Regions from separate parts of the Homo sapiens genome. Here region 1 is reported to be linked to region 2. The links are microRNA targets in miRTarBase. Many come from high-throughput screens and were not tested one by one. Region 2 holds a microRNA gene; the other region holds the end of a gene's coding sequence.
The links. Region 2 holds the annotated microRNA hsa-miR-6859-5p (GAGAGGAACAUGGGCUCAGGACA, at 1,868-1,890, opposite strand). A microRNA usually pairs through its seed, bases 2 to 8, with sites in the 3' UTR of a target mRNA and lowers its output. Matches are read on the target gene's strand: a 7mer-m8 pairs with bases 2 to 8, a 7mer-A1 pairs with bases 2 to 7 and ends in A, and an 8mer does both.

Region 1: the mRNA of TMEM167A is a reported target of hsa-miR-6859-5p. Seed matches in the 3' UTR shown: 7mer-m8 at 2,336-2,342 and 8mer at 1,196-1,203.

What each region holds. Positions count from the first base shown.
Region 1 is chr5:83,054,283-83,057,282 of GRCh38, forward strand. It overlaps TMEM167A (transmembrane protein 167A), which reads right to left. Exons shown (of 4, transcript NM_174909.5): 4 at 1-2,872. The coding sequence ends at 2,802. Among named protein-coding and RNA genes, the nearest start is that of TMEM167A, 22 kb to the right of the region's middle.
Region 2 is chr1:15,542-18,690 of GRCh38, forward strand. MIR6859-1 (microRNA 6859-1) reads right to left here and starts at 1,895; the gene lies at 1,828-1,895. It also overlaps the pseudogene WASH7P.

The DNA of each region.
Region 1 (3,000 bases), not on the chromosome of region 2:
CACAGAAGGGATTCAGACTCTGGCCTTTTGATTGACCACCTTTTAAGATTGCTTGAAAAGACAACGCCCTTCCTATTAGCACAGCTGAAGCCAATCCAGAACTAAACATCAGCACACAAAAAATACCAGGATAGATGGAATCAAAAGACTCTGAAGCCAAAAGGAGGCTAGGGAGAGCAACTGAACTTAGCAAGCTGAGGACTTCAGTGTCCATCATCCGATCCTGCCCTGTAACAACAGGTCTATATGATAGAGATATTCCATCTGAGCTGGAGGCCATTATCCTTAGCAAACTAACACAGAACAGAAAACCAAATACATGTTCTCATTTAGAAGTAGGAGCTAAATGATGAGAACTCAAGGACACAAAGAAAGGAACAACAGACACTGGGGCCTACTTGAGGGTGGAGGGTGGGAGGAGGGAGAAGAGCAGGGAAAATAACTACTGGGTACTAGGCTTAGCACCTGGGTGACAAAATAATCTGTACAACAAAACCACTTGACATGAGTTTACCTATATAACAACCTGCACATGTACCCCTGAACCTAAAAGTTAAAAAAATAAAAGGGATAGTCTATCTGATGCTTAAATTGATCTTTAATAACCTTCTGCATCCCACCACCCCACCAAAACCACAAGAGAAATATCTCAATATTCTGTGGGCTTAAAACCACCTACACTGCCCCTTGGGTTAGAGAACAGGATTCCGTGGTCCTCTTTGAAAAATATACATTAAAGAAAATGTTAATTGCTTTTATTCATACTGTGTCTCTCCCTGACTTCTCCAAAAGCTTGTGTTTCAAAAGGTCAGAATGGTTGTTGTTACAAATATGCTGCCTCCCACTCTGTTTAGCATCTATACAAAGCAAAACGTTTTGTATGTTTCCACAAATTTTCCCCCAAAATTATCTCTTCCTTTACTTTCCACCTACCTCCTCTGAGATGCCAAATTAAGAAATGTCTTAGAATATCTAGAATATTCTTCCTCTTTTCATATTCGATTTGTCTTAGCATATAAAAAATTAGTTGACATGGCTTTCGGAAAGTCCAGTTGGCAGCAGAGCTGGACAACAGATGGCCACCCAGAAATTAGAGCCAGAAAGGTGACTTACTCAGCATGCATACACTGACAAGAATCCTATTTTTGAGAAACCCTAAAAATCCTTGACCTGATGTAAAGCCCAAGAGGCAGTTTAGAGGAAGAACAATGATTATAACCTGATTCCCTATCTAAAGCAAAATATACCACTTTTAACTGCCATAGACATGCCAAAAATATAAAACCAAAACCAAACCAAAACAAACAAACAAAAAATCCCCAGATAACAAAATACAGAAAATCAAACCAAAACCAAAAAACACCCCCAAACAAAAAACCACCACAGGCAACACACAAGCTTAAGATGTTTCCTAGAATCCATTCCAAGTGGTTTAAATTAGTCTAAAATAAAAATAGGTGGCTTTCAGTTCCATACGTTGTTTCTGCAGAAATAACTACTAGCCTATTAATCTAGAAATAATTTTTTTTGTTTAAAAAAAGGGAGAGTTTCTTCATTTTATCTTTATGATGAATTAATAGCTGCAAACAATCTAATTAATACTATCTACAACAGGTAATTTTTAGCTAAGATTTAAGTTCCTCGTAGCTCTGAAATTTTAACTGAATTTTAGTTGAACCTTAAGAAATGTTAACCATGACCTTAAAATAACTGCTCTATTGTAAAATTTAGAAGTCACATTCCTAATATTCCTCTCGCCTAGACTAAAAATTGTTGAAGGTCTCCTTTCACTATCAAAGTTCAAAGATACTTGTGCCACAGTATACAAATCAGCAGATTTGAAAACTATTTATCACCTCCAAAGTAACAAAAGAGATTCCAGTTCAAGTTGACAAAACACAAACTGGATTTAAAGTGCTGTGTTAAAAAACAAAACAAAAATACAGTTCCTTTACGGCAATTAAAATAAATGTTTCATTTTTGAAGCCATGACACTAAAAAGAATGAAAAACACATATAGGATAATTATTTTATAATTGTTCTTTTCATTCTAAGAACGTTGTGTTTTTCAGAGAAAGACAGCTTTCCAGCAAAAATTCATGCACAAAATACATATACTTGACAAGATGTTTCAGAGCCTACTATGTCATTTGGCTAGTCTAAATCCACTAATGTTAACTATCAACATTTTCCCAATACTATTTTTAAGTTACATCTCATTTACCTTCGTCCTTAAGAACTGCATAAGCTTGTTTTAAATATTTTAAATACTTGTCATAAACTAGAGTTTGCTAAGAGTAGAGGTACTCTGGTTAATGATCAAAATGGTGTGCCCAGAGGAAAAGCAAGCACTATTAAATATTAATGCAATCCTTATCAACACAAATTGAGCCATTTTAATAAAAAAGCTAGTCCAAAAAAGGTTCTCATTCTATAAAGATTAAATCATTTCCAAATCACAGTGAAAGGAACTTGAGTAATTAACCAATTTTGTTTTCTACTATGTGCCTTAGAGATACCTCACTAAAATTTTGTATCTGATACAACAGAATAACATTTGCAGAATGTAATATTGTAGTGACAGTACTGAGGTTGATTGTTACAGACTATTAAATGGTTACATCTTAATTGTTTATACAGAACATTGGTCCAATAACATTAAAATAGAGAACAGCATCTGGAAATTTATCTCATTCAATGTTCGGAGATAAAAGAGTTAAACATCCTTTCCATTATTTTCTGCAGTCAGTCCTTGTTCACAATCAAATCTGATGGCAACTACATTCTGGCATTTTCCCCAGCTACTGTATGAAGAGGATGCTGAAGGCCATTACTATACAGCATACTGCAACATAAGGACTCTTCCGTTCACCTGTTGAAAAAAAGGAGATGTTCATCTTGATTAACTGAGTGGCTAACCTGGCTATGACAAGGTTATACTACCATAAGAATCAAGATAACATTCTTCCCTAGGAGGCCCGCACATTGGGGGTGGGGCAG
Region 2 (3,149 bases):
GTCAGTTTGAGCTGGGTGAGCTTAGAGAGGAAAGCTCCACTATGGCTCCCAAACCAGGAAGGAGCCATAGCCCAGGCAGGAGGGCTGAGGACCTCTGGTGGCGGCCCAGGGCTTCCAGCATGTGCCCTAGGGGAAGCAGGGGCCAGCTGGCAAGAGCAGGGGGTGGGCAGAAAGCACCCGGTGGACTCAGGGCTGGAGGGGAGGAGGCGATCTTGCCCAAGGCCCTCCGACTGCAAGCTCCAGGGCCCGCTCACCTTGCTCCTGCTCCTTCTGCTGCTGCTTCTCCAGCTTTCGCTCCTTCATGCTGCGCAGCTTGGCCTTGCCGATGCCCCCAGCTTGGCGGATGGACTCTAGCAGAGTGGCCAGCCACCGGAGGGGTCAACCACTTCCCTGGGAGCTCCCTGGACTGGAGCCGGGAGGTGGGGAACAGGGCAAGGAGGAAAGGCTGCTCAGGCAGGGCTGGGGAAGCTTACTGTGTCCAAGAGCCTGCTGGGAGGGAAGTCACCTCCCCTCAAACGAGGAGCCCTGCGCTGGGGAGGCCGGACCTTTGGAGACTGTGTGTGGGGGCCTGGGCACTGACTTCTGCAACCACCTGAGCGCGGGCATCCTGTGTGCAGATACTCCCTGCTTCCTCTCTAGCCCCCACCCTGCAGAGCTGGACCCCTGAGCTAGCCATGCTCTGACAGTCTCAGTTGCACACACGAGCCAGCAGAGGGGTTTTGTGCCACTTCTGGATGCTAGGGTTACACTGGGAGACACAGCAGTGAAGCTGAAATGAAAAATGTGTTGCTGTAGTTTGTTATTAGACCCCTTCTTTCCATTGGTTTAATTAGGAATGGGGAACCCAGAGCCTCACTTGTTCAGGCTCCCTCTGCCCTAGAAGTGAGAAGTCCAGAGCTCTACAGTTTGAAAACCACTATTTTATGAACCAAGTAGAACAAGATATTTGAAATGGAAACTATTCAAAAAATTGAGAATTTCTGACCACTTAACAAACCCACAGAAAATCCACCCGAGTGCACTGAGCACGCCAGAAATCAGGTGGCCTCAAAGAGCTGCTCCCACCTGAAGGAGACGCGCTGCTGCTGCTGTCGTCCTGCCTGGCGCCTTGGCCTACAGGGGCCGCGGTTGAGGGTGGGAGTGGGGGTGCACTGGCCAGCACCTCAGGAGCTGGGGGTGGTGGTGGGGGCGGTGGGGGTGGTGTTAGTACCCCATCTTGTAGGTCTGAAACACAAAGTGTGGGGTGTCTAGGGAAGAAGGTGTGTGACCAGGGAGGTCCCCGGCCCAGCTCCCATCCCAGAACCCAGCTCACCTACCTTGAGAGGCTCGGCTACCTCAGTGTGGAAGGTGGGCAGTTCTGGAATGGTGCCAGGGGCAGAGGGGGCAATGCCGGGGCCCAGGTCGGCAATGTACATGAGGTCGTTGGCAATGCCGGGCAGGTCAGGCAGGTAGGATGGAACATCAATCTCAGGCACCTGGCCCAGGTCTGGCACATAGAAGTAGTTCTCTGGGACCTGCAAGATTAGGCAGGGACATGTGAGAGGTGACAGGGACCTGCAGGGGCAGCCAACAAGACCTTGTGTGCACCTCCCATGGGTGGAATAAGGGGCCCAACAGCCTTGACTGGAGAGGAGCTCTGGCAAGGCCCTGGGCCACTGCACCTGTCTCCACCTCTGTCCCACCCCTCCCACCTGCTGTTCCAGCTGCTCTCTCTTGCTGATGGACAAGGGGGCATCAAACAGCTTCTCCTCTGTCTCTGCCCCCAGCATCACATGGGTCTTTGTTACAGCACCAGCCAGGGGGTCCAGGAAGACATACTTCTTCTACCTACAGAGGCGACATGGGGGTCAGGCAAGCTGACACCCGCTGTCCTGAGCCCATGTTCCTCTCCCACATCATCAGGGGCACAGCGTGCACTGTGGGGTCCCAGGCCTCCCGAGCCGAGCCACCCGTCACCCCCTGGCTCCTGGCCTATGTGCTGTACCTGTGTCTGATGCCCTGGGTCCCCACTAAGCCAGGCCGGGCCTCCCGCCCACACCCCTCGGCCCTGCCCTCTGGCCATACAGGTTCTCGGTGGTGTTGAAGAGCAGCAAGGAGCTGACAGAGCTGATGTTGCTGGGAAGACCCCCAAGTCCCTCTTCTGCATCGTCCTCGGGCTCCGGCTTGGTGCTCACGCACACAGGAAAGTCCTTCAGCTTCTCCTGAGAGGGCCAGGATGGCCAAGGGATGGTGAATATTTGGTGCTGGGCCTAATCAGCTGCCATCCCATCCCAGTCAGCCTCCTCTGGGGGACAGAACCCTATGGTGGCCCCGGCTCCTCCCCAGTATCCAGTCCTCCTGGTGTGTGACAGGCTATATGCGCGGCCAGCAGACCTGCAGGGCCCGCTCGTCCAGGGGGCGGTGCTTGCTCTGGATCCTGTGGCGGGGGCGTCTCTGCAGGCCAGGGTCCTGGGCGCCCGTGAAGATGGAGCCATATTCCTGCAGGCGCCCTGGAGCAGGGTACTTGGCACTGGAGAACACCTGTGGACACAGGGACAAGTCTGAGGGGGCCCCAAGAGGCTCAGAGGGCTAGGATTGCTTGGCAGGAGAGGGTGGAGTTGGAAGCCTGGGCGAGAAGAAAGCTCAAGGTACAGGTGGGCAGCAGGGCAGAGACTGGGCAGCCTCAGAGGCACGGGGAAATGGAGGGACTGCCCAGTAGCCTCAGGACACAGGGGTATGGGGACTACCTTGATGGCCTTCTTGCTGCCCTTGATCTTCTCAATCTTGGCCTGGGCCAAGGAGACCTTCTCTCCAATGGCCTGCACCTGGCTCCGGCTCTGCTCTACCTGCTGGGAGATCCTGCCATGGAGAAGATCACAGAGGCTGGGCTGCTCCCCACCCTCTGCACACCTCCTGCTTCTAACAGCAGAGCTGCCAGGCCAGGCCCTCAGGCAAGGGCTCTGAAGTCAGGGTCACCTACTTGCCAGGGCCGATCTTGGTGCCATCCAGGGGGCCTCTACAAGGATAATCTGACCTGCAGGGTCGAGGAGTTGACGGTGCTGAGTTCCCTGCACTCTCAGTAGGGACAGGCCCTATGCTGCCACCTGTACATGCTATCTGAAGGACAGCCTCCAGGGCACACAGAGGATGGTATTTACACATGCACACAT